4 linked regions of the Homo sapiens genome follow. The protein of the gene in region 1 binds, or shares a complex with, the protein of each later gene. Each region holds a gene or a part of one and is shown in the gene's direction. Other genes may lie near its edges. The genes, in order: ARMC7, CWC15, SF3B2 and SRRM2.

Region 1 (7,407 bases):
CATAGCTCACCATAAACTTGAACTCCTGGGCTCAAGCAGTCTTCCTGCCTTAGCCTCCCGAGTAGCTGTGACTACAGGTGTGCACCACCATGCCCAGCTAATTTTTTTTTTTTTTAATTTTTTGTTGTGACAGGATCTCACTGTGTTGCCCAGACTGGTCTCGAACTCCTGGCCCCAAGAAATAAATCCCTTGTAACCCTAAACAGACCCTCATTTCATAACACTGATTCTCGAAGGCCCCAACCAGGAATGCAAATGTTCCCCCTTCCGGTTTGTCTCATTGCCTCTTTGTGGTTTCTTTATCCCCTTTATTTCCTATAATCCAGAAATTGGGTTGAATGTCTTGATAGGATCAAATAACACATTTTTTATTTTATTTTATTTTATTTTATTTTATTTTTTGAGATGGAGTCTTGCTCTGTCGCCCAGGCTGGAATGCGGTGGTGCAATCTCAGCTCACTGCAACCTCTGCCTCCTGGGTTCAGACAGTTCTCCTGCTTCAGCCTCCCGGGTATGGGATTATAGGCGCCCGCCACCACGCCCGGCTAATTTTTGTGTTTTTAGTAGAGACGGGGTTTCACCGTGTTGGCCAGGCTGGTCTCAAACTCCTGACCTCAGGTGATCCGCCCGCCTCAGCCTCCCAAAGTGCTGGGGTTACAGTCGTGAGCCACCACACCTGGCCCAACTAACACATTTTTAAAAATACTTTTTATTTATTTATTTTTTTTTTTGAGATGGAGTCTTGCTCTGTCGCCCAGGCTGGAGTGCAGTGGCGCGATCTCGGCTCACTGCAAGCTCCGCCTCCCGGGTTCACGCCATTCTCCTGCCTCAGCCTCCCAAGTAGCTGGGATTACAGGCGCCCCCCCACCAGGCCCGGCTAATTTTTTGTACTTTTAGTAGAGACGGGGTTTCACCGTGTTAGCCAGGATGGGCTCAATCTCCTGACCTCGTGATCTGCCCGCCTCGGCCTCCCAAAGTGCTGGGATTACAGGCGTGAGCCACCGCGCCCGGCAAAAATACATTATGATAAGTGTGATTCAAATTTTTCAAAGACCATCCAGGTCTCCTCTAAAGAGGAGAGGAGATTCCTGGGGCCAGACTACAAATGAGGGTCTTCTCTCCATGAGGGGGCTCCAGCACATGTGTGTGCGGATTCACACCCCCACAGACAGCTGCCCCTTGGCCACTCCCTGGGTTTGGAAGTGCACACACCAACAGTGGCATTCACTCCTGGGAGTCAGGATCCAAGAGAGAGGCCCATGCAGCCGTGGGAGCAGGTTTAGGGCCTGGAGCTCCAGGTGCAGGGGAAGGACGGCTGTGGGCTTTGGGTGAGCTCCCTGGACTTACTGCCCCACAGAGGACCAGAGTGGGGCCTGCTAAAGCCAAGCCAGGGCAGGAGCCCCAGTTGCCCAGGTCCCCGAGTGATGCCAGCTCCTCTAGAAGATTATTATGCCAAACAAATATTCTAAAAAGTTGGTCTCTAAAACGTCCTCCGTCCCGTCCCTTTTCGTGCCTCTGCCCCCACAGCTGCTGCAGTCTGAACGGTGACGGTGGCCCCTGCAGAAGCATGTGGCTAAATCTCCACCAGGGGGCGATAGAGCTCCTCCAAATCAAGCTGCTGCCCCTGGAGAAAAATTGGCGGAAGTCACAGAGCAGTCCCCACCAAAAGTGTTTACCAAGTGGAGTCTTTCCTGCTGGCGTTTCCTCAGGGTCAGGAAGCAACTTTCCCAGGACAGGGGCACCCTGAGGTCCGGGTCCACTGAGCTATGGGGGCGGCGTGGGCCTGGGCTGGGTTCTTGCCATCCTGGGCAGCTTCCCGGCGTGGGTGACTGAGCCCGGGTCCTGGAGTCCGCGGTCCCAGCGTCTCCACTTCTCAGCTGATTCCTAGAAGCTGAGTCCCGTCCCTTCTCCGAGCGTGGTTTCCTCTCCCGCCTTGCCTGCGTCGCAAGCAGTTGTGGGAGCAGAAGTGTGTCTGTGCATCTGTGTCTCTGTGCAGGTATTTTAGAATTGTTAGGATCATTATCACCAGCTTTACTTTTCCCAACCATTTTTTTCCTCCTTTTTTTCTCTTCCTTCTTCTGCCACAGCAAGACCCCCCCGCCCCAAGCACAGTAGCTTTCTCAGCGTCGAATCCCTCCGTGGGACCATGTTGCAATGAAATTTCAACATGCAAATGAAATTTCTCGAAATTTCTCTTGTGTTTATTATGCATGACTGAGAAGGAGAGCCCCCGCGTATTTTCTTACTGCCGTCGTTTCCCTTTCTCTTAGTGTCTCTGCTTGGGGATCCCCGACAGGCACTTATTCTGCTGTTTCTGGAGAAGGCTCTGTGCTGCGCTTTGGAGCTTTGAGTCTTTTATCCGATGTGGCAGCCCTGAGATTGTGATCTCCCTGAGCCAGAGCCAGCCTTACTTCTGTCTGCATGGTTTGAGTGCTTAGGCCTTTTGGCCTAGGGAGGAGGAAAGAAGGGGAAGAAAAGGCAGGAGATCTTCACTTAATAGGTGTGGAGTCCTGGCCATGACTTGGTGCAACACCCCTGAGCAGGGTTGGTTCTGGAAGGACTGGCACAGTGGAGAGCTGAGTCAGATTGCCCATGGCTGTGGCTCGCAGAACCAAAACCAAGCTGGGTATGGTGGCTCACACCTGTAATCCCATTTGGGAGGCCGAGGGGGGTGGATCACTTGAGGTCAGGAGTTCGAGACCAGCCTGGCCAACATGGCAAAACCCCGTCTCTACTAAAAATACAAAAATTAGTTGGGTGTGGTGGCGCACACCTGTAGTCCCAGCTACTCGGAGGCTGAGGCAGAAGAGTTGCTTGAACCAGGAGACAGAGGTTGCAGTGAGCCAAGATCACGCCACTGCACTCCAGCCTGGGTGACAGAGCAAGACTCTGTCTCCATAAAAAAAAAAAGGAACCAAAACCATTGTCTGCTTGGTTGAGCAGGGTGGTTCATACCTGTAATCCCAGCATTCTGGGAGGCTGAAGCAAGAGGATTGCTTGAGCCCCCAGGAGGTCAAGAGCAGCCTGGGCAACATAGCAAAACCCTGTCCCTACAAAAACAAACAAAACAAGTATCTGCTTGTTGGCAGGCAGCACAGTGAGTTGGATGAGAGCTGGGCCCTGGGGTCAGGCAGGCATCTGGGTGTGGGCTCTCTCTCCTCCAATCATCTGTCAGATGGGGACAGTGCCAGTAGCTGCTTCACATCAGTTGAGAGAATTAAATGAAACACCACAGTGCTCTTTTAGGGTTAGTGTCTGCAGCCATAGATAGGATTCCCTTGGTTGCCATCCAAAGACAAATACCCAAAACCCTTTGAGGGTGAGCTGTCGCCCCTTGTCCCAGAGAGGTGAGGTGCGGGATGGGATAACGTCCTATCAAGGGAATCACTCATCTGCTCCAGGAATTCTTACCTTCTGGAAAAACATCACGGAATGACAGGAACACCGATCCTCAGCCTCCCAGAGGGTGCCCAGGCAATGTCAGGTGGGGAGAGCCTGGCTGCAGGCCCGGTGCTGTTGTGCCCCCATCACGGATGGCATTAGCTCACACTTGGGGAGCACCCACTGCATGCCAGGCGCTTGCATCTTGTGCATTGGACATAGTACTAAAGTAGATGTGCTTACACCGCCTTCTTTCCAATCAGGACTCTGAGGCTTAGAGAGGTTCTGTGGGCTGGCCAAAGGTTTAAAGAGTACCAGACCTAGGCCGGGCATGGTGGCTGACGCTTGTAATCCCAGCACTTTGGGAGGCCGAAGTGGGCAGATCACCGGAGGTCGGGAGTTCGAGACCAGCCTGACCAACATGGAGAAACCCCATCTCTACTAAAAATACAATTAGCTGGGTGCGGTGGCACGCGCCTGTAATCCCAGCTACTCAGGAGGCTGAGGCAGGAGAATCGCTTGAACCGAGGAGGTGGAGGTTGAGGTGAGCCAAGATCACGCCATTGCACTCCAGCCTGGGCAACAAGAGTGAAACTCCGTCTCAAAATAAATAAAGAGTACCAGACCTGAGACTTAAACCCAGAGCAGTCAGAGTCTACAAGCTAGTCCCTTGGCCCTTTTCCTGCCCTTAGAGGAGTTCCAATTCCTAGGATTGTGGAGCGAAAGCGAGAAAGGAGTTTACTCCAAATTGCTCATTTTATCAATAAGGAAGCTGCGGTGCAGACAGCTGCCCCTCGTCTGGCTGTCGCAGGCCAGGATGAGAATGCAGGCTTCCTTCCGTCTGTCCCTGCAGCCACCACACTCACAGGTACCCTTCCATGCTGGCTTTGCTGTGGCAGCTCTGAGTGAGGTCTGCTCTTTGGCCCAGCACTTCTGCCTCCTCTCTGAGGGCTGGAAGCTGGATGCTATCCAAACAAATGGATTCGCTCACCCTGCACACTAAGGCCAATTACTGACAAAAATCGCAGTGAGAAAGTGAGGCTTTGTTTTTGTTTTTGGTTTTGGTTTTTTTGAGACAGATTCTCACTCCGTTGCCCAGGTTGGAGTGCAATGGTGCAATCTCGTCTCACTGCAACCTCCGCCTACCTGGTTCAAGCAATTCTCCTGCCTCAGCCTCCTGAGTAGCTGGGATTACAAGCACCCGCCACCACACCCAGCTAATTTTTGTATGTTTAGTAGAGACGGGGTTTCGACATGTTGGCCAGGCTGATCTCGAACTCCTCACCTCAGGTGATCCGCCCGCCTCGGCCTCCCAAAGTGCTGGGATTACAGGCGTGAGCCACTGTGCCCAGCCAAAAGTGAGGCCTTTATTGTGGGGCGACAAGCAAGAAGAATCCGGCAGCTCATGCTTAAGACCCAAATTCCCAGATGGCTTATGGTTAAGGGTGTTCAAAGGCAGGAGGCAGAGGTTACAGACAAAGTTTTAAATCAACACCAGGAGGCTATATATTGGTTTGGCCTAAGAAGGCAGGATGTCTCCAAGGGATGGGGCACAGATCATAGGTGGCTTCAAAGATTTTCTGATTTGTGAGTGGTTAAGGAGGTGAAGCTTTGTCTACAAATTTGGCATCAGCAAAAAAGAATGTTAGCTATAACCTGTGGGCATGTCCTCCAGGCCCCTCAGGGAGTCTAAAGAGTGGTCAGAGTGTAGTTTTCAGTTCCCCTTATCTGAGGTCTCAGTGCCAGGGGAATTGTTTGTTGAGGGTCCAGATTTCTGAAAAGCAACTCAAGGACAGATATTAAGATGTTATCTTTAGGCCGGGTGTGGTGGCTCACACCTGTAATCCCAGCACTTTGGGAGGCTGAGGCGGGTGGATCACTTGAGCTCAGGAGTTCAAGACCAGCCTGGCCAACATGGTGAAACCCCGTCTCTACTAAAAATACAAAATCTAGCTGGGTGTGGTGGCAGGAGCCTGTAATCCCAGCTACTCTGGAAGCTGAGGCAGGAGAATCGCTTGAACCCAGGAGGCAGGCAGAGGTTACAGTGAGCCAAGATCGTGCCACTGCACTCCAGCATGGGCGACAAAGCAAGACTGTCTCAAAAAAAAAAAAAAAACAAAGTTATCTTTAGTTTCTATGGGGAAACCAGACATCCCCTGATTCTGACTTCCTTGGCTATTGTTTTAAGCTAACTATTACCTTCTTGCTTATCGAGTTGCTCACTTGCTTCTCAGGGCTAGCTAGGTGCCTGGAATTTCATGAAGGGACTCAAGATTTTCCTTTATTTCCATGCTTGGGGGCCTGCAGGCCCCTAGAGAAGCCCCTGCTCTCTCTCCATGTCAGCCAGGGCTTCAGTCTGGCCTCAAGTGTTCCCATCAGCGGTGGCAGTGGAACTACAGTGGCAGCAACCACTTGCCAACAGGGGCCTGGCCTCACTCACCGTCGTCTCTGTGTGGCGGTCTCTTTCTCCTGTGGCTTCCTCTCAGTTGCCCGCCGTCGGCACCGCCACAGCCATGAGGAAGGATCCGGCTACAGCGACCGCGGAGAACACGCACGGGTTTTCAAGTCTCTGGCCTCTTTTGTGGCCTCTTGTGGATCTGCCCATTTAGAGCAATTGTAGAACTAGTTTATTGACCCTTTCTGTGCTTCTGGCTGCCTTTTCTGCCCAGGGTCCAGGGCTCCTGTTTGGGTGCTGTTGGGATAAAAGCTGCCTCTCCTGGATGCCCGCCCAGTGCACACCATGTGCTCGCCACACGCCCACCTGAACCAGCCTGTCCACAAGGCCTCTGAATCGGTCATGAACGGCAAGGCCGATGGTTCTAACCCCTTTGTACATATCGGGAACCCCCACCACCAAGTGAGGGCAAGTCCACTGCCTGGGGCTCCCGCTGTTAGTGATAACTGGAGCCAGGACTTCGCCCCTGTCATCCAGGATCCAAATTCTGTGCCCTGGGAACCCAGCTGGCACCAGGCTCAGACTCTAGTCCCTTGTTCTGGCCTCAAACTCCTGGGCTCAAGTGATCCTCCGACCCCAGCCTCCCAAAGTGCTAGGATTACAGGCATGAGCCACTGCACCCAGCCCCAGTGGCAGTTCCTCTATGACACTGGTACACTGGACTGTACACTGGTACACTGGTACACTGGACTGGTACACTGGACTATTCACAGGGGATTATTTGTTCTTGGGTTTTCCTTCAGTGTCTTGAAAATGGCTCCTTCAATTTCAAGTCTGAAGGACAGACAGTACATAGAGTAAGCTACCCTTTGTGTGAGAAGGCAGGGTGGAGATGAACACACCTCTGTGTATGCACTCACGCTGGCAAGACACAAAAGTGTAATAAGGAAATGGGTTAGTACGAGGCAGGGAACAAGGTAGAAGGGACCAGAATGGTGGTGAGACTTCTGAAAATACCCTGTGATACAGTTTTTTCTTTTTTTTTTTTTGAGACGGAGTTTCGCTCTGTCGCCCAGGCTGGAGTGCAGTGGCGCGATCTCGACTCACTGCAAGCTCCGCCTCCCGGGTTCACGCCATTCTCCTGCCTCAGCCTTCCCAGCAGCTGGGACTACAGGCACCCGCTACCACGCCCAGCTAATTTTTTTTGTATTTTTTTTTTTTTTTAGTAGAGACAGGGTTTCACCGTGTTAGCCAGGATGGTCTCGATTTCCTGACCTTGTGATCCGCCTGCCTCGGCCCTCTCAAAGTGCTAGGATTACAGGCGTGAGCCACCACGCCCAGCCTGCTGTGAAGACTTTGACCCTGGGCTGCTTCAGCTCAGCATGGGCGAGTCCCCAGATGTAGCTGTATTTTGAGCTGCCCTTGCCGAGGGCCTGCCCAGCCACCAGGTGCCAGGTGCCAGCTAAGCACTTGTCAGAAGCATCACCTCGTTTTGTTTTGTTTTTGAGATGGAGTCTCGCCCTGTTGACCAGGCTGGAGTGCAGTGGCATGATCTGGGCTCATTGCAACCTCCGCCTCCCAAGTTCAAGCCATTCTCCTGCCTCAGCCTCCCAAGTAGCTGGGACTACAGG
Region 2 (8,053 bases), on another chromosome or scaffold:
ACAGTGATTCAACTGGAAGAGATGGAGAGAGTTGGATTAGAGTTGTGATTGGATTAGGGCTGATTTAATTAGGATTTTGATGGTACATATAAAGCCTGATCTCATATGATTTTTTTCATTTAGAGATTCTCTCCCGAAAGAAAGTCATATTTCTGGGTCTTATCATATCTTCATTTGAAATCGGGATTTCAGACTAATACAATGTAAGTTACTTTTTTCCTTTAAAATATAAAATAGATTAAGGCAATAACTTTTTACAACAGAACACAATTTTTTCCTCTTAAAACTAATTCATTCTTTCATTCGTCCATTCATTCTTTCTTTTATTCACTCATATGGAAACTGTTTATTGGGTAGCTATTGGTGCCAGGCATTGTTTTAATGCTTGACCTATATTACTGAGCAAAACAAAGATCTCTGCCCTTTTAGAACTTATATTCTACATGGGAGAAGTAGAGAAAGAGACAATAAATGTAACATAACTAAATTATATAGGGTCATGGAAGATGATAAATGCCATGTAATTATATATAATATAATTTTAAAAGATAAAAAGAAGAAAGAGGGGAAGGGAGATACGGAGTACAGAATGTTAGGGGACAGAGAGGGAGAACAGTTGCAATTTTAAGTAGAGATGCCCAAGGTTCGTTGGACTCCATTTGAACAAAGACTTGAGTAAGACAGGAAAGAATAGCCTTGGCAGAGAAAATAGCTAGTGTGAGGGCCCTAAAGCAGGAGCAGCTGTGTGCGTGTCCAAGCAACAATATGAAGGAGGTAGCCATGAAAAGCATGAGCAAGTGATGAGGTCAAAGAGGTAGGGGAAAGGGTAGACCATAGAAAACTTTGGAAACCATTGTGAACACCTTGGCTTTTACTGTGAGGGTAATGGGGGACCAATGCCCCCCGCTGTCTGACTGGATCCCCTTTTCTCTCAATCCCATCCAACTATGTTATTAATTTTTTTAATTGTTGCCAATCGGATGCTGTAATGTGATAATCCATTTTTAGTTTACTTTCATTTTCCTCATTAGAAGGTTGAGTGTCTTTCATGTTTATTGACTTGTCTATTTGAAATTGCTTTTTCTGAATGGCCTGCTTATATCTTTTGTCCATTTTTTAATTGGGTAATTTGTGATTTTTATATTATGTGTATCACTAGCAGTAGCAGTAATCCTTTATATGTTATAGGCATTACAAAATTTATTTGCGAATCTAGAATTTATTGACTTGTTTTTGGCATCTACAGCTATAAAATTAATTGTTGGATAAATGAATTTTTAAAAGTATTTCTTTTAAAGCTCTTAAGGTGTTCTGCTTTGATTGAAAGGTCTTTCCAAATTCTAGGTTCTATAAATAGTTTCTTAAATTTTCTTCTTAGGTTTTTATGGTTTCTATTTTCCCTTTTAGGTGTTGATTTTGTTTAAGCTTTAAACTGGAATTCCTATGCTACTCCTGCCATAAAAATAGAAAGTTTTGCAATCAAGGGCCAAACTACATCCCTTTCACATTTAATTAAATGCTACCTTTGGCATACTAAAATGAAAGAGCCTTTTTTAAGGTTAAGATATACTATACCATGTCCAAAAGCTGATAAAAATGATCTGAAAGGGATGGCCTCATAGATCATAAGAAAGAGAAAATATATAGCAAAATGCCAGCCACTAAGAAACCTGGAGGAATTAGGACCCAGAGCACAAGGGAGAGTGTGGGTCACCTCATCTCCAGTAATAATGAGAATCTGAGGATACAGGAATAGCCAAAGGCAGCTCGATAGATCTGCGGAAAAAAGGAGATGAGAAGTCCTTGTTTAAGAGCTTCTGTTTTCTCAGAGAACTGAGAAGATCTACTGCCAGGAAAGAGAATGCAGAGGGAAAAGGAGGTGAAAGAGGCATGTAGACTTGAAGAAAGGGGAATGTGGGAAATTATATTATTGTAGAGGGGGAAAATAAACAATTAGGAGAGCATAAGAGGACTGGCAGGCAGAATTAAGGGCCAAACTAGATTTTGTGGTAACAGGTTTAACATAAGAATTCTTGGGAGGTTATATGATTTTTGCCAGCTAGGTTAACTGATCAGATGAATTTCAAGATTTTAGTAAACTTAAGTTTCTTTTTCTTAATACTTTCAAACCATTTAAGTCAAAAGCTTTAGTTTCATTTTCTTATTAGCACTTTCATTTAAGTCAAAAGCTTTTAATTTTGTGGATTGACTATATTGTATATTGGTGTTAATGAAATTATAGGGTGGCTATTTATCACCACTGGCAACCAAAAGATTAGGTTAGTGGGCTGGGAGTTAAATCAATGAAGTGATTCACTCCAGGCTAATGAGGACAGTTGGAACATAAAAACTGTGGGTATCTCCTATAATTGTGTTACCATCTTGCCATTGTTACGTCATTCCTCTACTTCATAGTGCATCATTCATTCATTCATTCATTCAACAAATACTTACTCAGCACCTATTATGTGCCAGGCACTGTTCTATATGCAGAGGATACACCCAGTGAACAAGAGAGACAAGGTTCCTGCTTTCCTGGAACTTATGTTCTAATATAGGAAGATAGACAATAATAATAAAAATAATATTAATAATAATAATAATAGCTAACATTTATTTAGCAAGTACTATTTGCTGAGACAGTTCTAAGCACTTTACAAGTATTAATTCACTTAATCCTTAGAGTAGTATTACAAGTTAGGGACTAGAATTACGCCCATTTTACACGTGAGGAAACTGAAAGCACAGAAAGGGAAAATGACTTGCCTAAGGTTATAGAGCTAGGAAAGGGCAGAACTGGAATTTAGAACAAAAATGGGCAGGCTGAAGATCCTTTTCTCTTAATGACCTTCGCATGCTGTCTCCTGAGAGACATGGAAATAAAAAATGAATAGAATAGACTCTGGTAATGTTTAGTGGTATGAAAAATGAAACAGGGTGATGTGATGGTGTACAAACACAAGTGTTGGAGGGGTGGGGGTAGGAAAACCTCACTGTGATACCTGAGACATGAAGGATGGTGATACAGTTACTTTGGGGCACAGGCAACAGAGAAAAGCTAGTGCAAAGGCCCTAAAATAGAAGGAATCTTGCCCTGTTTTATAAAACAGAAATGCCCACTTGGCTGTGTCTAGAGCTTAGTGCGTAAGCGAGTGACTGATTGGAAGTGAAGTCTGGAAGGTAGGCAGGAACCAGACTCCGTGGGGTCTCAGGTCACATTAAGAAATGTGATTTTTATTCTAAGTGCAGTGAAATTGTACACAGGATAGTAACACCATTTTATTAATTTTAAAAGATCACTCTCTTGGCTATATGCAACACTGACTGTAGGATAAAAGATGACGCAGGAAGATATAATAGGAAGCAATTACAATCCAGGTAGGAGATGGTGTTGGCAAAGGCAAGGGTAGTGGCAGTAGAATAAAATTGCGGGTGAGTTTTAAAAGTAGAATTGTTAAGACCTGTAAATGAACCGTATGTGAAGAGTGAATGAAAAGGAATTTAAGTAGGCACTCCGGGATTTTGGTTTGAGTAACTAGCATGATGATCGCGTCTTTTAGTGAGACTTGTTAAGACTGGAGGAGGGATACCTTCGGTAAGAAAAATCAGGATTTTCATCTTGAACTCTATGACTGAAAGGGCTTTTTCTGCTTTTCTTTCTTCATTAAAAAGTTGCAAAGAATTTAGGGGTAAGAAAGCATTTAAATATTCAATTTTGTGAGTTCCTTACATTTTAAACTAAGTTGGGGAAGTTGAATTTTCATTTGTTTAACAAATATTAATTGAGCAGCTACTATACGTCAAGGTCTATGTGATGAGATACCAAGATGAGCTAAACAACCAAGATCTCTATTCTCAGAATTTGTTTTTATGGAAGGGAGGAGAGACGACTGGTAGGTTTTTGGTTTTCGGGTTTTCTACTTTTCGTTGTCTTATTAAAACTTAACACTTAAGTAGCCATCTTAATAATTACATCTTGTGCTCCTGGTAGTTGGGCCCACCATTGTAAACGCTCTCGTAAATACTGACATCTCCCCTCCCACTAAAACTAACGTTTTTTAAATAAGAAATTTTAGCAAACATTACGAATACAACCTTTGCTTTGAAGTGTTAATATTTTTGCAGGAATGGTACCTTTGTAAAGATCGTGGTTGCCCCGTACATATTTGTTCTTTCTTCATATCCAATTAAATGAAAACACTAGTTTTTCCGAAGCCCAACTCTCTAGGTTTGTTGGTTCTAGCTCAGGAGAAAGGATGGAAGCAGGAGTCGTTGGATTTAAACAGTTTGGTGTAATCCTTTTCCACGCTCTCTCCCGCTAGCCGGGGACGTGGTGTCGGCTACCCGGGGCTTTCCGTCCACGCAGTACCGGAATGAAGGAGTCTGGGAGGGGGTCGGGGACGGAAAAGACGGAAGAGACATTAAGTAATTGGTTCTTGAAGGTATAAAATGAGGTTTAGGGTCTACTCTAAGGCACTGATTTCAAACGCCCGCCCCCTGGGCCGCTTCGGCCCCGCCCCTTAGTGCCGTTACGCCGACTTCCACTTCGGCCACTGCGGATTGGTCGTTGCTTCCGCCCCCGAAGCGCTTGGATTTTGCTTCCGGGTCGTAGGCGCTAGCTCTGGGCGCAGAGGTTTCTGGGAGCCAAGAGTGGTAATGGCGTCTGTATGATCTTCGGAGCCTGCTGCATCGGACCTCGGCCAGTGTGAGCGGCAAGAGGATAGGAGATTATCTTTCTTATCGCGATGGGACGGGAAAGGGCAGTTGGGGTCGGAGTCGGCGGCAGAGTGCAGAGCGCGGGCGGTGGAGGCCCTGGAGCAGCGGGCTAGGGGCGGAACCGAGTGCCTGTCAGGCGCGTCTGGAGCTCTTGGGCCCGCCGAGGAGATCGCAGCGTACAGGCAGCTCGCCTACTGCGTAAAGCGAACCCCAGGTCCTCCCTTCACTACCCTTCGCACCCCTGCAGTGCTGGGCACGGGTGAAGAGGCAGCGAGTTTCTGGTTATAGCCAAAGACTAGCTCACGGGAGGCCGGAGTGATAATTCCGTGGGTGTGTGGGAAGGGGCGGCGCCCCCAGCGCCAGATAACCCTGTTTTCTTCTTTGTATACATGTCTCTACCCTTTTTGAAAGTTGAGAGAATTAGCATCGCCCCCCCCCCAAAAAATCCTCCCAATTCGCCCACCCTCCCCACACACTTGCTTTTCCGACACTAACAGGGTTTTAGTGACTGCATCTGCTGCACAGTATTCTTGTGACTGCTCCAAGCAGAAAGTAACTTGAGGAATGAGTCCCTGATTTTTGGCATCAGAATCCTCTGGGGGTGAGGTTCCTGTTTTTTTTGAACAGGCCTTAAATTATAACCCACAAACGATCTAATTTATAGTATGATGCCTGTTGTAGGAGAAAATTGGCTCAACAAACGGTTGTTTAAGAATTTTTTTCTGTGTAACTGTCATTGAAGTTTAACACACTTTTCTCTGGGACATTTAGTAACTTTGTCAGTGATATTTTTTGTTTGTTTTTAGCTTTTGTTTCTACTAGCCTATTTGCTATTGTGTGAAGTTTAGATAAAATGCAAACCTTACAGAGTCTGGTAGAGTAAGGTTGAGTTGGAAATTTTTAAAACTCAGTCATGGCAGTACTGTATTTTACTAGGGTTTTGACATGTCAAGTGTCATAATTCTTATAATCTATGAGGAATATCTCCATTCCACAGATGACAAAGTTAAGCCAGGTGACTTGCTCAAGCCCATATAGTCAGAAGGAGAATAGGGATGCAAACTCAGATCTTCATGACAGAATTTTTTGTACTAAGGCAAGCCTGAGAAGCCATATTCCTTGTACAGCCTAAGCCTCATAATTTGTTTTCTTGAAAACTTTTGTTTAAGAAGATTAAGCAGGTTTTGGGGAATGAGTTTTAGAACTTATTTTACCAGTATGGATATTGATTAATACTCTATAAAATGAGTGTTTGTAATGTTGGAAATAACTTGATTATATTTTTCTTCAAAGCATAAAAGATGACAACAGCAGCCAGGCCAACCTTTGAACCTGCCAGAGGTGGAAGGGGAAAAGGAGAAGGTGATTTGAGCCAACTTTCAAAGCAGTATTCAAGCAGAGACCTACCCTCTCATACAAAGATAAAATACAGGTAGTAAGACTTTCTTTTTTTATTGTTCACAAAACAAGACCAGATCTGTTAAATGGCATGGTCATGATATAGTAGTATGTTTGAGTTATGTCACTTATCTATTTTCATAGGAATAGAATGCAATAGGATGTTTAACACTAAAATTCTGCTGTGATTTTAAAATGTGAAATTCCTACTAACCAGGAATTTTCATATGTAGATAGAACAATAAATAATAGAAATAATAATGCCTCAGAGTATGCACTATGAGCACCAGTCAGTATATTAAAAGTATTACTGTTAAGTTCTGAGTTGATATAATCCTAATAAAAATTAAAGACATTTTAATCACTGTAAAGCCTTATTATAGGAAAATATGTGATTGAATTTGGACTTCTTGAAATATTGGGAACATCACAAGAGTGGCTGTTAGTAACCTTCAGATTAAATTATGATCTTGTCTACTTCCCTTTTTTCTGCTTGAAGGACAAAGTCTCATTCCTGAATTGTCTTCCATTACTACAGTCTCTGTGTGTGTGTGTGTGTGTGTTTAAGTAACATTTTTGCCCTGGTTTGTTTCTACTTTAGACAGACTACTCAGGATGCCCCTGAAGAGGTTCGTAACCGTGACTTCAGGAGAGAGTTGGAAGAAAGAGAGAGAGCTGCTGCAAGAGAGAAAAATAGGGATCGTCCAACCCGAGGTACCAACACTATCCAAGACATTTGTCTCATAAAATTATGTTGTTGATAGTTTTTCTTTATGTAGCAATTGGAAAATGTTAACCATTTGTTTACTTTTACAGATTGATGTGAGCTGTACTACTTTCTTAGGTCATTAGAGATAATAACAACAAATATTTACCAAAGGCTTATTTGCCCAGGCACTGTGGATGTGAGTTCACTGTGGATAATGCTTTTAATGTGGGCTCCTTGTGCTCACAGGTCCCTAAAACATTTTAAGAAATGAAGTATTTGTTTTACTAAGTTAAATGATTTTTGTTTCCCCCCAGAACATACAACCTCCTCTTCAGTGTCAAAAAAGCCACGGTTAGACCAGATTCCTGCCGCCAACCTTGATGCAGATGACCCTCTAACAGATGTATGTTTTGTTTCCTCCTTTCATCTCTAATAATTGATTTACCATGCTATTCTAAAATACTTGTTATGTCTTTGCTTTAAGAAGTGACATATATTTATGTTTAGTTACTGTTATTCAAATATAGCCCTGACCTCAGTGCTAAACTTTATAGTTGATTTTAAAATCAAAAGTATTATTTTGTGGGACTTTAAGAACAAGTTTGATCTCTAGAGAACCAAATATGGAAGGAATCTATAAAAGGATATGCTTTCCCCCAAAATAATGTCCTGTACTAAACTACTGCACTACTGCTGTGTTACACACCTCTCCAGGGCACTCTTCATACTGGGCTTCCTATAAACAGTGCCCTCTAGAGTTGTACCTGGAGGCCTTTCCATATTAGATATGTCCCCTTCTATAAGTGCAATACACTTAATGGTTCCCTCTGTGCTTAGGGAGGGAAGTAATCTAAGCAGAAGGTTTTTAAGGATTAGCACATCAGTTAATGTTAAAATTCTGTGGGACCCTAGAGCCTATAATCAATTTGCAGTTTTCTACATACAGGACAGTGAAAAACCTGAGTGGCATCCAATGAGTAATATCTAACTATGTATACATATCAGCAGTTAATTCTAGAGTTAATTGATGGAGTTACTCATAATAGTTAAAACAGGAAACCTAATTTCAACTGAAATTTAATGATTATTCATTTGAAATTATTTTCTTCTGAGAATTTAGCACACTTTTTTGCACTTTTGAGTATCTTTGCTGCTAGCTTAAAGTTGTTTTGAGCTACATAAAATTGTTTTGACTTTCTTAGGGTGATACGTTGTACATATGTACTGTGT
Region 3 (7,263 bases), on another chromosome or scaffold:
GCAAATTGCTAGCTTTTCTCCAGGGAACCAAAGAAATAGTAGAGCCGACCAAAGCTTTGAAAATGGGCCGGGGTGCCCACCCTCCTAAAGGAGCCCTTTCTCCTCTGTCTCCTCTGAGCTCTAGAGCTGAAACCGATGCACTTAGAGGAAGGGGTGCCCTGGACTGGACCACTTGGACCTGACTGCTGGATGGCCCGGAGACTCCATCCTGTCCTGACTTGAGGGATGGGACAGCCCAGTGTTGAGGGACGCTGACCCAGGGTGCTCCAGAGGAGGGGCGAAGGGCTGAGGGGGTCTGCAAAGTACTGGCCTGGGAGAGCAAATCTTTCCACCTCCCTCTTTTTCCTCCTCCCCCACCCCCCAGCCTGCACCAGGTCTGCCCCTGGCCCCCCAGCCTCCTCTCTCTCTCATCCACCCCCGCATCATCCCTGCCTTGGAATTCCCTCCATCCTCCTGTCTCCATTACTGCCCACCCGCACCATACCTCCCACTCCCTCAATTTCATCCCAGCATCCCCCAGGGATCCTGCCAGTGGGATCTGATCACCATAGGGGATAGGCCAGATTGGCCCGCTCACCCTATCTTCTCCCACTTTCCAGGGGTAGAGCGCCCCCCTCCTCATGCTTTCCAACCACTAGGCCCCCAAGACACTCTCCCGCCCGCCTCTCGGCCCCCATCCCGGTCTGGTCCACTCCCACCCCTCCAACCCCATGCCGGCCACTGCAGTACTCACACCGCACGCCTGGGCTCTGCCTCTGGCCCGGGTTGGGGGCGGCCGCCGCTATCTCTGGACCCTTGTCTCGAAATCCGCACGGGGTCCGAGGGTGCCCGGGGCCCTGCGCGCCGAGTGCCGGTGGCTTGCCTCTCAGCGCCTGGATGGGATCAGGTGGCAGCGTCCGCTAGGCTCGCTCCTCCCGGCTCTGCCCGCCCCCCGCCCCCCGCCCCCCATCGCACACCGGAGGAAGGCGAGGGGCGGGGCCAGGCCACGAGCAAGTAGGGGAGAGGGGAGAGAGGGGAAAGGAAGGGGGACGGGGGAGGGGGGGTGGTTCCCTGGCTTGCCCGCTGGCTGCCGTGAACAGTCTCTGGGTGGCATCTTCAGATGCAGTTGTCTTACTCTGGCAACCTTGCAGAGTTGGACACTAATGTGGCCAGCTCCCTTCTCTCACTCAGGCAGGGAAACTGAGGCCGGGAAGGTGTCTGGATACTCCTGCATTGCTGGGTATTCTGGGGCACCGCCGGTCATACGTGGGCTTCTGGGTGAGCCAGATGCTGGTACACGTGCAGGTACTCACATCCTCTGTCCTCCTCCAGTAGAGAAGCAGTGCTCCAGCCTTGTCTGGTCCCATCTCTGCCCACATGCCCCCTTCCCTTCCAGCGTGTCCCCCATACCCTCTGATGTAGCTTCTGGCTGCTCACCCATTTTTCCTCACTAGGACTCCAGACCCACTCACTCCTGACCAGAGCTATAGTGAGGCTGGGACCCCTGCCTAGGCACCTGCCACCAGGCATCAAAGAACCCAAGTTCAATCCTGGTTTGCTCTTAAATCCCAGAGTCAAGAGGCAACTCCCTAAGCCCTATTGCTTCCAGCTGTAAAATGGGAAGCTGTTCTGAGGTAGCAGAGATAATACACACGAAGGCTCCATGTGAACTTCTTAGTCCTCAGCTCCCATCACCTGGGAGCTGGGCAGCAGCACCTCCCAAAGCCATGCCAGACATCAAGAGCCCTACACTGAGTTCTGTGGCTGGCCTGCACACCTGCTTTCTATTTTGCTCTGGGCCTGGTAAAGCAAGGATCCTGGAGCTGGGTAGCCACCCAAAGGTGGGACTGGAAGGGGCTGGATACGCCCTTCTAGGCCCACATAGGAAATAGTGTGAGGGTCCTTGTTATGGTTGAGGAGGAGGAAATAGGGACTCTCAGAGTCAGAAGGACTGCTGGTGGCCCCAGTTTGGCCTCTTGGGCATGTCACCTTCTCTGCCCATCAATCTTCCGCTGTGTACAATATCGTGGGGGAGGAGGATCTTGAGACCTTGCCTCCTTCCCAGGGCTGTTATAAAATGAGACTCCAGGCCGGGTGCAGTGGCTCACGCCTGTAATCCCAGCACTTTGGGAGGCTGAGGCGGGCGGATCACGAGGTCAGGAGATCGAGACCATCCTGGCTAACGCGGTGAAACCCCGTCTCTACTAAAAAAAATACAAATAAATTAGCTGGGCGTGGTGGCGGGCGCCTGTAGTCGCAGCTACTCGGGAGGCTGAGGCAGGAGAATGGCGTGAACCCAGGAGGCGGAGCTTGCAGTGAGCGCAGATAGAGCCACTGCACTCCAGCCTGGGCAACTGAGACTCTGTCTCAAAAAAAAAAAAAAATAAATAAATAAATAAAAAATAAATAAATAAAATGAGACTCCATCAGCCTTTAGTTTATCCTGCCTCAGAGACCCCGCCCCCTTCCCTAGCACCTACACATGCCTTGGGGCCCTCAGCCTCAGATGACCTGCCCTGGGCTCTCCAGTTACAGGGAGCAGAAGAGCCTTCCTTTGGGCTAGAAAGGTTCTGCCTGAGTGGGCTGACAAGCTGGAGGGAAGGGCGCTGTTTTTCTGTCTTCGTTACTGTCCTTTCCGGGTTTGGCTTCTCCTCTGGGAGTGTGGCTGCAGGAGCCTCCCATAGTGATATTGATGGAAAGGGGAAAGGTCAAGGTTTGGGTAGGAGGAAGAGGACTTCCCACCCAGTGCTAGGATGTGAGCCAACCTTTCTCAACCCAGTCCTTTTCCCTGTCTCTCCCAAACCTCACCTTCCCCCGACCTGGTGCCCCATTCTTTTTTTTTCCCTGTTCCCAGCTTCTTCTCCACTGGGGGCAGTTGGCAAAATGGAGCTGGAGAAAAGATCTGAAGGGGATGTGTAGGGGGAAAATGAGACCATTTCACTTGAGTCTCCCCACTCCCTTTCTCAACACACATAAAAAACACACACAGGCTAGCTGTTGGTGAGAGGGCAGAGCTAGTGGCAGAGGTGGGGAGAGAAACTGAATTGATGGTGTGGGACAGGGAGAGGTGGATGCTAGGCAGGCAAGAATCCCTGCCAGTCTCTGCCTCTGTCTCCAAAGGCCAAGGGGAGTTGGGGTGGGGAGTGGGAGGCAAGGTGGGGCCCCCAGTGCAGGTGCGGCTGAGGGAAAAGGGCCTGAGTTTATTTTTGAGACTAAAAAAGACACAAATGCTTTCACCAGAAACATTGTTCCTTTTTTTCCAGTAATCATTTATTGGGCGCCTCTTGAACGCCAGGCGATGCGAGACTGAAAATGATCAAGTCCCTGCTCACATTTTTGGGATAGAGGTAGGAAGAAAGGGCAAGAAAGACTTAACAAACGGTGGAGATTCGAACGTATTATGGGAGCTCTAAGAAAGGAAAGGAAAGCGGGAGGAGGCTTAGTGGAGAAGACGACATTTGAGCCGGCCTGGAAGGTGGAAAAGGGGGCTTTAGAGTCGCCCTTCCCCCAGGTCGGCAGCTGGAGCTCAGCCCGGGCAGGCCTGCTGCTCTCCCGGCTTGGATCCCCTTTCAGCCCATTCATCCGGGCCTGGGCCGGGGGTGGGCGGGCAGACAATCAGACACTGTTTTATCCCAGGCATCGGCTCCAGCCTCCCGCTTGGCGCCCGCAACGCGGGGCCGCCGGGGAAATGAGTCTCTCGGGACTCCCTGGGAGCGTAAGCGTTCGAGGATCTGACCGGAGGGCCGGGCCGGAAAGCTTGAGAGCCTTCGCTCCCGCAGGTGAGGCGCAGAAAACACTCCCTCGGGGAAGTGCCAGCCCTCCTCGCAGCCCCGCCCTCCGGCCCGCCGCCGGCCTTCGGGGCCGTAGCGGCGCGCAGGGCCCGCAGAGACCGAGACCTGCGCACTACAACTCCCAGGAGGCCTCGCGACCAGACCGCCGAGGGGCCACTAGAGAAAGGTGCGTCTGCGGCGAATCCCGTCGCCCAGCGCACGGCAGCGGGTGTGCCTGAGTGCGCGTCGCCTCCCAACCAGAGAGGACGTGGCATACGGCGCCACCGGAAGTTCCGGCAAGTGGGCCCTGAGGCTGGCCCCAGCTTCCGGGTTGGTCGCGCGCCTTCCTGCGGCTAAGATGGCGACGGAGCATCCCGAGCCTCCCAAAGCAGAATTGCAGCTGCCGCCGCCGCCACCTCCAGGCCACTATGGCGCCTGGGCTGCCCAGGAGCTTCAGGCCAAGTTGGCAGAGATCGGAGCTCCGATCCAGGGTGAGGAACACAGGAAGTCGAGGGGCCTTTACGGGCCTGCGGAGAAGCGGAGCCTGGTTACCCGGGAGACTCGGGTGCGAGGGGCGGAGGCAGGCCGCTGGGGCCTGACCTGGCCGGGCTGGCCTGCCCCATTGATCGTGTACTTTGCCCTGCAGGTAATCGCGAGGAGCTGGTGGAGCGGCTGCAGAGCTACACCCGCCAGGTAGGTGTTGGCGGCGGGACGTCAGGATAGGCCGAGCTTCTCCAGGAGACCTTATATACCCCATCACGGCTCGGTCTTCATTCTTTCTTTATCTCGGCACAGCAAGGCGGAGGCTTGCCCTTTTTAGCTTGTTCTTGCCTTTGCCAGCTTAGTTGTAATTTCTTGTATCCATCTTGGTCCTCTTCAGTGCCCAGCCAGAGCGCTGGCAGACAGGCACTGGGTACGTTTTGTTGAATGAATTGGGAGCGAACGTCGTTTAGTGAAACAGCTAGTTTTGGACTGACCTAGAGTCCTTTCTCTTTTGCAGACTGGCATCGTGCTGAATCGGCCGGTTTTGAGAGGGGAAGATGGGGACAAAGCCGCTCCACCTCCCATGTCGGCACAGGTAGGGAGATTCTTCTGTTTTTTAAGATTCCATCTGCTGATCCTTTTGTAGTTCATGAGCATGATGATTGGGTGTTCACGTGCATGTGTGAGATGTGACACCCTTGCACATTACTCGCCTGACCTGAGTGGGGAAAAAAAAAGATTCCATATGTTCAGGGTAGCCCTTCCTCTCACTTGCAGTTGTTGGGCAGGGAGGTACTGCCATGACAGAATTGTGAGCTCTTCAGTTCTCTCTTTGATGCTGACACTTGCCTCCTTTTCCACTGTCTGCTTCTCCAAAAGCAGCTTGTGGCCGGGTGCAGTGGCGCATGCCTGTAATCCCACCACTTCGGGATGCTTAGATGGGACGATCGCTTGAAGCCAGGAGTTCGAGACCAGCCTGGGCAACATAGTGAGACTCTGTTACTACAAAAAATTTTAAAAATTAGCTGGGCACGGTGGCACGCGCCTATAAAGTCCCTATAAAGAGGCTCAAGGATTGCTGGAGCCCTGGGGTTGGAGGCTGCAGTGAGCTCTGGTTGCGCCACTGTACTCCATGTACTCCATCCTGGGTGACAGAATGAGACTTTGCTTCTTTAAAAAAAAAAGGGGGGAGGTGATGGGGGAGGGGCTGGGAGAGTGTCAGAAAAAATAGCTAATGCATGCCAGGCTTAATACTTAGGCAGTGGGTTGATAGGTGCAGCAAACCACCATAGCACACATTTACCTATGTAACAAACCTGCGCATACTGCACATGTACCCGAAAACTTACAATAAAATAAAATTAAACCAAAAAATAGGAAAAAAAAAAAAGAGGCAGGGCGTGGTGGCTCATGTCTGTAATCCCAGCACTTTGAGAGGCCAAGGCAGGTGGATCGCCTGCGGTCAGGAGTTTGAAACTAGCCTGGCCAACATGGCGAAACTCTCTCTACTAAAAATACAAAAATTAGCTGGGCGTGGTAGCACATGTCTGTAATCCCAGCTACTTGGGAGGCTGAGGCAGGAGAATCACTTGAACCCTGGAGGTGGACGGTGCAGTGAGCCAAGATCAAGCCCCTGCACTCCAGCCTGGGCAATAGAGCGAGACTGTCTCAAAAAAAAAAAAAAGAGGCAGGGCATGGTGGCTCATGCCTGTAATCCCAGCACTTTGGGAGGCTGAGGTGGGCGATCACTTGAGGTCACGAGTTCAAGACCAACCTGGCCAACATGGTGAAACCTTGTCTCTACTAAAAATATAAAAATTAGCCGGGCATGGTGGCAGGTGCCTGTAATCCCAGCTACTTGGGAGGCTGAGGCACGAGAATTGCTTGAACCTGGAAAGCGGAGGTTGCAGTGAGCTGAGATTGCGCCATTGCACTCCAGCCTGGGTGACAGAGCGAGACTCTTGTCTCAAAAAAAAAAAAAAAATACAGCTTGAATACAAGGAAGACTGACTTGTCCTTACCCAGCTGGAAGCAATCACCCTTTTCTTTGCCTGCCCCAGGCACAGTTCCCATGTTCTTTTGTGTGACATCGAGGGCTCCCTGATTTGATTTCACACCCCTTGCGTTTAGTAGTCATTGGGGTTTGCATTGCCCAGATACAGTGGTTCCTGTTTATGTAAGTCCTCTCAATTTCCATGTTCCTTCTGATCCAGGATTTGCCTCATTTTCTCTAAAGCAGTGGCTCTGACCTGGCATCTACTGATCTCTGTGTGTAGGATGAGGAGTCCCTAGATGGCCTCAGAGGCGTCTTTGAGTCTCCTAGAATTGTATGCAGAATCTATATTCAGGATATCTTTTTGGAGAGAGTGGATAGCTTCCTTTGGTTGGTGCCAGAAGTTAACATTCTCATATCTTTATAGAGCTGTGGAGCATTCTCTCTTATGGAGTGGTAACTATGTATCATTTGACTTAGAATTCCAGCTCCTGACTCAAAGTAGATCCCCCAGATATTTGCAGAATGAGTAGATAAATGCTTCCTAGTTTTATGATCATATTTTCTCCACAGCTCCCTGGAATTCCCATGCCACCACCACCTTTGGGACTCCCCCCTCTGCAGCCTCCTCCGCCACCCCCACCACCTCCACCAGGCCTTGGCCTTGGCTTTCCTATGGCCCACCCACCAAATTTGGGGCCCCCGCCTCCTCTCCGTGTGGGTGAGCCAGTGGCACTGTCAGAGGAGGAGCGGCTGAAGTTGGCTCAGCAGCAGGCGGCATTGCTGATGCAGCAGGAGGAGCGTGCCAAGCAGGTAGGGCAGGTGGCAGCCCTGGCCTTGGACTCATTAGGTCCCTGAAGGGGCAGTGGAGCCTTAGAGAAAGCTGGGTCCTAGAACTAAGGCTTCTGGGAAGGTCGGGACTAAAGATTGGAACATGGGCCCTTGACTGGAAGAGGATCTCAAGAAGCAAGAGTTGTGGCAGATTGGCGTGTTGGGTATTGGTGCTGGTATGAACTTGTTTTCTTTTTTAAGCAGGGA
Region 4 (7,407 bases), on another chromosome or scaffold:
CGGAGATCACGATCCAGAACTCCCACCAGGCGTAGGTCTCGGTCTAGAACACCAGCCCGGAGGGGCAGGTCTCGGTCTAGAACACCTGCTAGGCGCAGATCTAGGACCCGATCACCAGTACGACGCAGGTCTCGTAGTAGATCACCAGCCAGGAGAAGTGGCAGGTCACGCTCTAGAACCCCAGCTAGACGTGGCCGCTCACGCTCCAGAACCCCAGCCAGACGTGGCCGCTCACGCTCTAGAACCCCAGCTAGACGCAGTGGTCGCTCACGCTCCAGAACACCAGCCAGGAGAGGGAGGTCTCGGTCTAGGACACCAAGACGAGGAAGATCCCGCAGTAGAAGCTTAGTTAGACGTGGAAGATCTCACTCTAGAACACCTCAAAGAAGAGGCAGATCTGGCTCATCTTCAGAGCGGAAAAACAAATCCAGAACATCTCAAAGAAGAAGCAGGTCCAATTCAAGCCCAGAAATGAAGAAATCTCGCATTTCTTCAAGGCGGAGCAGGTCTCTCTCTTCACCACGGTCCAAAGCAAAATCTCGCTTGTCTTTGAGGCGCAGCCTTTCAGGGTCTTCCCCATGCCCTAAACAAAAGTCACAGACACCACCCAGGCGCAGTCGCTCTGGATCCTCCCAACCTAAAGCTAAATCTAGAACGCCACCCAGACGCAGTCGCTCCAGTTCTTCTCCGCCACCTAAACAGAAATCTAAGACACCATCAAGACAAAGTCATTCCAGTTCATCTCCTCATCCTAAAGTGAAATCTGGAACACCACCGAGGCAAGGGTCCATAACAAGTCCCCAGGCCAATGAGCAATCTGTAACGCCACAGAGACGGAGCTGTTTTGAATCATCACCTGACCCTGAGTTGAAATCTAGGACCCCTTCTAGACATAGCTGCTCAGGGTCCTCTCCTCCTAGAGTGAAATCTAGCACACCTCCCAGACAGAGCCCATCTAGGTCATCATCTCCACAACCCAAAGTGAAGGCAATAATATCACCAAGACAAAGAAGCCATTCTGGCTCCTCTTCTCCAAGTCCTAGTAGGGTGACGTCGAGAACAACTCCACGGCGAAGCAGATCAGTATCTCCCTGCTCCAATGTGGAATCCAGATTGTTGCCAAGATACAGTCATTCTGGGTCCTCCTCACCAGATACCAAAGTGAAACCTGAAACACCGCCAAGACAAAGTCACTCAGGGTCTATTTCACCATACCCCAAAGTAAAGGCCCAAACTCCACCGGGGCCAAGTCTTTCTGGATCAAAGTCACCATGTCCCCAAGAGAAGTCTAAAGACTCACTAGTTCAAAGTTGCCCTGGATCCCTCTCTCTCTGTGCAGGAGTAAAATCTAGCACACCACCAGGCGAGAGCTATTTTGGTGTCTCATCTCTGCAACTGAAAGGACAATCTCAAACTTCACCAGACCACAGATCTGATACTTCAAGTCCAGAAGTGAGACAGAGTCATTCAGAATCACCATCTCTGCAGAGCAAATCTCAAACATCACCTAAGGGAGGTCGGTCCAGGTCTTCATCTCCAGTCACTGAGCTGGCATCCAGATCTCCAATAAGACAAGATAGAGGTGAGTTCTCAGCGAGTCCTATGTTGAAATCTGGAATGTCTCCTGAGCAGAGCAGGTTCCAGTCTGACTCTTCTTCATATCCTACAGTGGACTCGAATTCTCTCTTGGGGCAGAGTAGATTGGAGACTGCTGAATCAAAAGAGAAAATGGCCTTACCCCCTCAGGAGGATGCTACTGCATCACCTCCTAGACAGAAAGACAAATTTAGTCCCTTTCCAGTACAGGATAGGCCTGAGTCTTCACTGGTATTCAAAGACACACTTAGAACCCCGCCAAGGGAAAGAAGTGGTGCTGGGTCATCTCCAGAAACAAAAGAGCAAAATAGTGCATTGCCTACGTCAAGCCAAGATGAAGAGTTAATGGAGGTGGTAGAGAAGTCTGAAGAACCCGCAGGCCAAATCCTGTCTCATTTGTCTTCAGAACTTAAAGAAATGTCCACAAGTAACTTTGAATCATCTCCTGAAGTAGAAGAAAGGCCTGCTGTGTCTTTGACTCTTGATCAGAGCCAGTCACAGGCTTCTTTGGAAGCAGTAGAAGTCCCTTCAATGGCCTCATCTTGGGGTGGGCCACATTTTTCTCCAGAACATAAAGAACTGTCTAACTCCCCACTCAGGGAGAACAGCTTTGGATCACCTTTAGAATTTAGAAACTCAGGCCCACTTGGTACAGAAATGAATACTGGATTTTCTTCTGAGGTTAAAGAAGATTTGAATGGACCGTTTCTTAATCAGCTGGAAACAGATCCATCTCTAGACATGAAAGAACAATCGACAAGATCCTCTGGACACAGCAGTTCTGAGTTATCCCCAGATGCAGTGGAAAAGGCAGGGATGTCTTCAAATCAGAGCATCTCTTCACCTGTGCTTGATGCTGTACCCAGAACACCCTCGAGAGAAAGAAGTAGTTCTGCATCTTCTCCTGAAATGAAAGATGGTTTACCCAGAACTCCATCAAGGAGAAGCAGGTCTGGGTCTTCTCCAGGACTTAGAGATGGGTCTGGGACTCCCTCGAGGCACAGCCTGTCTGGGTCCTCTCCTGGAATGAAAGATATACCTAGAACGCCATCTAGAGGGAGAAGCGAATGTGATTCTTCCCCAGAACCGAAAGCTTTGCCTCAGACTCCTAGGCCGAGGAGTCGTTCTCCATCATCCCCAGAGCTCAACAACAAGTGTCTTACCCCCCAGAGAGAAAGAAGCGGGTCAGAATCATCAGTTGATCAGAAAACTGTGGCTCGGACTCCCCTGGGGCAGAGAAGTCGTTCGGGATCCTCTCAAGAACTTGATGTGAAACCCAGTGCATCCCCTCAGGAAAGAAGTGAGTCAGACTCTTCTCCAGATTCTAAAGCCAAGACAAGAACCCCACTTCGGCAGAGGAGTCGGTCTGGATCATCTCCAGAGGTTGACAGCAAATCTCGACTATCCCCTCGGCGCAGTAGGTCTGGTTCCTCCCCTGAAGTGAAAGATAAGCCAAGAGCAGCACCCAGGGCACAGAGTGGTTCTGATTCCTCTCCTGAACCTAAAGCTCCAGCCCCTCGGGCCCTTCCCAGACGAAGCAGATCAGGTTCATCAAGCAAAGGCAGAGGCCCTTCTCCTGAAGGAAGCAGCAGTACCGAGTCCTCTCCTGAACATCCGCCCAAATCCAGAACTGCTCGCAGAGGTTCCAGGTCATCACCAGAGCCCAAGACCAAGTCTCGTACACCACCTCGACGTCGCAGCTCTCGATCATCTCCGGAGCTAACAAGGAAGGCCAGACTGTCCCGTAGAAGCCGCTCTGCCTCATCCTCACCAGAAACTCGCTCTAGAACTCCCCCAAGGCACCGGAGAAGTCCCTCAGTGTCTTCCCCGGAGCCAGCCGAAAAATCGAGGTCTTCACGCCGACGGCGCTCAGCTTCATCTCCACGCACTAAGACAACCTCAAGGAGAGGCCGCTCTCCTTCGCCAAAGCCTCGTGGACTCCAGAGGTCCCGTTCCCGCTCAAGGAGAGAGAAAACAAGAACAACCCGACGTCGAGATAGGTCTGGATCTTCTCAGTCAACCTCTCGGCGAAGACAGCGGAGCCGGTCAAGGTCGCGGGTTACTCGGCGGCGGAGGGGAGGCTCTGGTTATCACTCAAGGTCACCTGCCCGGCAGGAAAGTTCCCGGACCTCCTCTCGACGCCGAAGAGGCCGCTCTCGGACACCCCCAACCAGTCGGAAGCGTTCTCGCTCACGCACATCACCAGCCCCGTGGAAACGCTCTAGATCTCGAGCCTCTCCAGCCACTCACCGGCGATCCAGGTCCAGAACCCCCCTGATAAGCCGACGTAGGTCCAGATCTCGAACTTCACCAGTCAGCCGGAGACGGTCAAGGTCCAGGACTTCAGTGACTCGACGAAGATCCCGGTCAAGAGCATCCCCAGTGAGCAGAAGGCGATCCAGATCCAGAACGCCACCAGTAACCCGCCGTCGTTCAAGGTCTAGAACGCCAACAACACGCCGCCGCTCCCGTTCTAGAACTCCACCAGTGACTCGCAGAAGGTCCAGATCCAGGACTCCACCAGTAACCAGGAGGCGATCTCGAAGCAGAACTTCGCCTATCACTCGCAGAAGATCAAGATCCAGAACATCTCCGGTCACCCGAAGGAGATCTCGATCTCGCACATCTCCAGTAACTCGAAGAAGGTCCCGCTCTCGAACCTCACCAGTGACACGCCGCCGCTCTAGGTCCCGGACACCTCCAGCTATTCGGCGCCGCTCTAGATCTCGAACGCCACTGTTACCACGCAAACGTTCTCGAAGTCGCTCACCACTTGCTATCCGCCGCCGCTCCAGATCCCGTACTCCACGAACAGCTCGGGGTAAACGGTCCTTAACAAGATCTCCTCCAGCCATCCGCAGGCGTTCTGCATCTGGAAGTAGTTCTGATCGTTCACGATCTGCTACTCCTCCAGCAACAAGAAATCATTCTGGTTCACGGACACCTCCAGTAGCACTCAACAGTTCCAGAATGAGCTGCTTCAGTCGTCCTAGCATGTCCCCAACACCTCTTGATCGCTGCAGATCACCTGGAATGCTTGAACCCCTTGGCAGCTCTAGAACACCCATGTCTGTCCTGCAGCAAGCCGGCGGCTCCATGATGGATGGTCCAGGTCCCCGAATACCTGACCACCAGAGAACATCTGTGCCAGAAAATCATGCTCAGTCCAGGATTGCACTTGCCCTGACAGCTATCAGTCTTGGCACCGCTCGGCCTCCTCCGTCCATGTCTGCTGCTGGCCTTGCTGCAAGAATGTCCCAGGTTCCAGCCCCGGTGCCTCTCATGAGTCTCAGAACCGCACCAGCAGCCAACCTTGCCAGCAGGATTCCTGCAGCCTCTGCGGCAGCCATGAACCTAGCCAGCGCCAGGACACCTGCCATTCCAACAGCAGTGAACCTGGCTGACTCTCGAACGCCAGCTGCAGCAGCGGCCATGAACTTGGCCAGCCCCAGAACAGCGGTGGCACCTTCGGCTGTGAACCTGGCTGACCCTCGCACTCCCACAGCCCCAGCTGTGAACCTAGCAGGGGCCAGAACCCCAGCTGCCTTGGCAGCTCTGAGTCTCACAGGCTCTGGCACACCACCAACTGCTGCAAACTATCCCTCCAGCTCCAGAACACCACAGGCTCCAGCCTCTGCAAACCTGGTGGGTCCTCGGTCTGCACATGCCACAGCTCCTGTGAATATTGCCGGCTCCAGAACCGCCGCAGCCTTGGCCCCCGCGAGCCTCACCAGTGCTAGGATGGCTCCAGCATTGTCTGGTGCAAACCTCACCAGCCCCAGGGTGCCCCTTTCTGCCTACGAGCGTGTCAGTGGCAGAACCTCACCACCGCTCCTTGACCGAGCTAGGTCCAGAACACCACCGTCTGCCCCAAGCCAATCTAGGATGACCTCTGAACGGGCTCCCTCCCCTTCCTCTAGAATGGGCCAGGCTCCTTCACAGTCTCTTCTCCCTCCAGCACAGGATCAGCCGAGGTCTCCTGTGCCTTCTGCTTTTTCAGACCAATCCCGTTGTTTGATTGCCCAGACCACCCCTGTAGCAGGGTCTCAGTCCCTTTCCTCTGGGGCAGTGGCAACGACCACGTCCTCTGCTGGTGATCACAATGGCATGCTCTCTGTCCCTGCCCCTGGGGTGCCCCACTCTGATGTGGGGGAGCCACCTGCCTCTACTGGGGCCCAGCAGCCTTCTGCATTAGCCGCCCTGCAGCCAGCAAAGGAGCGGCGGAGTTCCTCCTCGTCGTCGTCGTCCTCTAGCTCCTCCTCTTCTTCATCATCGTCGTCGTCGTCCTCCTCCTCCTCTGGCTCCAGTTCTAGTGACTCAGAGGGCTCTAGCCTTCCTGTGCAACCTGAGGTGGCACTGAAGAGGTGAGGGAGCTTGACTTTTAGAAATCTTCAGTGGGGGAGGTATTGGGGATGGGTTGGGGAGTGGGGAGGGAGAAACCATGTCACAGGTGCTTGGCTCTTGGAGGAGGTATGGGGACCTTGACCCTCAAGCTGGGGGTAGAAGAGAATGCTGGGGCAGGGGGCGGAGGGAGGAGGAATGGGACAGATAAAAGTCTCCGAAGGTTCATTCTCTAGAGGATAATGATAAGTTTTCCGTCTCTACAGAGGACAGAACTAGAGGAAATGGACTTAATTTTACAGCAGGAGGGATGGCAGTTAGACCTCAAGAGGAACTCCCTGGGCTGGAAGGATCTTCAGAGGTCATCCCATCCCTCTCCCTGCCTCCAGGCAGGACGGCCCCTTCCCCAGCCAACCTGCACTCACAGGGGCCTCCCCAAGCTGCGGCTCTCCGAGGAAGGAGACTACCCAGCTTCAGCTTCCACACCTGAGCCCAGAGGCCTTATTCCTCCATCAGGGACATTCTTGAGGTTTAACCTTGATCCCTTATGCTGCGGGCCCCAGCCTGTTGCTTCTGTTAGCAGAGGTTGGGTCAGCTCGCACCACTGCTCTCCAGAGAATTGCTGGCTCACGTGGCTCGGAGAGCTCCCAGCGCCTTTCTCAGGCACCCCTCCCCCCACTGCCGTTCCTCCAGGCCAAGGAAGGTAGGGTTGGGGCTGGGGCAGCTTGTCTCCTTGTGACACTCCTCTCCTCCCACAGGGTCCCCAGCCCCACCCCAGCCCCAAAGGAGGCTGTTCGAGAGGGACGTCCTCCGGAGCCAACCCCAGCCAAACGGAAGAGGCGCTCTAGCAGTTCCAGTTCCAGCTCCTCCTCTTCATCTTCCTCCTCCTCCTCCTCCTCCTCTTCTTCCTCCTCCTCTTCCTCTTCTTCTTCTTCCTCCTCATCTTCCTCCTCCTCGTCGTCTTCCTCCCCTTCCCCTGCTAAGCCTGGCCCTCAGGCCTTGCCCAAACCTGCAAGCCCCAAGAAGCCACCCCCTGGCGAGCGGAGGTGAGTGCTGTCTTGCCTGAGTTGAAAGGTGGGTGGGGGAGTGACTTGTCCAGAGAAGGGGCCCTGGGGTGTGAGCTCCCCGCTGGGTGTCTCACGTGGCCTTGGGCATCTGGTTGTGGGGGAGGAGGCACTTGCTCTCCTCTCCCCATGCTCGTTGCACCCTGTTCTGGCGAAGGGCTGCGCCATCCACAGCGGCGCTCAGGCCAGGACCAGGGGGTCCTTGGTTTCTTCCTCTCCCTCCCTCAACACATAGCCTGTTCCCAGGGTTCTAGCTTTGTCTCCCTGTTGCTACTGCCAGGGCTCTGGTCTGGCCACCATCATCTTCTCCCGACTCTGTCCACAGCCTCCTCCCTGTCTCCCCGTCTCCACGCCATTCTCTTCCACATGTAGCCAGAGGGACCTTTCTAAAACGCACATCTGGCTA

The links.
Region 2: ARMC7 (region 1) and CWC15 share a complex: the UniProt entries of both Homo sapiens proteins name them as parts of the minor spliceosome.
Region 3: ARMC7 (region 1) and SF3B2 share a complex: the UniProt entries of both Homo sapiens proteins name them as parts of the minor spliceosome.
Region 4: ARMC7 (region 1) and SRRM2 share a complex: the UniProt entries of both Homo sapiens proteins name them as parts of the minor spliceosome.

The regions. Positions count from the first base shown.
Region 1 is NC_000017.11:75,112,642-75,120,048, forward strand, and holds part of ARMC7 (armadillo repeat-containing protein 7), read left to right. Parts: intron 1-1,527; coding exon of another isoform or gene 1,528-1,541; exon of another isoform or gene 1,542-2,087; coding exon of another isoform or gene 2,088-2,158; exon of another isoform or gene 2,159-2,179; intron 2,180-7,407. UniProt on the Homo sapiens protein: As a component of the minor spliceosome, involved in the splicing of U12-type introns in pre-mRNAs.
Region 2 is NC_000011.10:94,970,150-94,978,202, reverse strand, and holds the start of CWC15 (spliceosome-associated protein CWC15 homolog), read left to right. Parts: upstream 1-4,646; 5' UTR 4,647-4,705; exon of another isoform or gene 4,706-4,930; intron 4,931-6,009; 5' UTR 6,010-6,017; coding exon 6,018-6,148; intron 6,149-6,715; coding exon 6,716-6,828; intron 6,829-7,137; coding exon 7,138-7,226; intron 7,227-8,053. UniProt on the Homo sapiens protein: Involved in pre-mRNA splicing as component of the spliceosome. Component of the PRP19-CDC5L complex that forms an integral part of the spliceosome and is required for activating pre-mRNA splicing.
Region 3 is NC_000011.10:66,048,278-66,055,540, forward strand, and holds the start of SF3B2 (splicing factor 3B subunit 2), read left to right. Parts: upstream 1-4,086; 5' UTR 4,087-4,107; coding exon 4,108-4,240; intron 4,241-4,395; coding exon 4,396-4,442; intron 4,443-4,749; coding exon 4,750-4,827; intron 4,828-4,866; exon of another isoform or gene 4,867-4,951; intron 4,952-6,798; coding exon 6,799-7,038; intron 7,039-7,257; coding exon 7,258-7,263. UniProt on the Homo sapiens protein: Component of the 17S U2 SnRNP complex of the spliceosome, a large ribonucleoprotein complex that removes introns from transcribed pre-mRNAs.
Region 4 is NC_000016.10:2,762,302-2,769,708, forward strand, and holds part of SRRM2 (serine/arginine repetitive matrix protein 2), read left to right. Parts: coding exon 1-5,960; intron 5,961-6,695; coding exon 6,696-6,983; intron 6,984-7,407. UniProt on the Homo sapiens protein: Required for pre-mRNA splicing as component of the spliceosome. As a component of the minor spliceosome, involved in the splicing of U12-type introns in pre-mRNAs.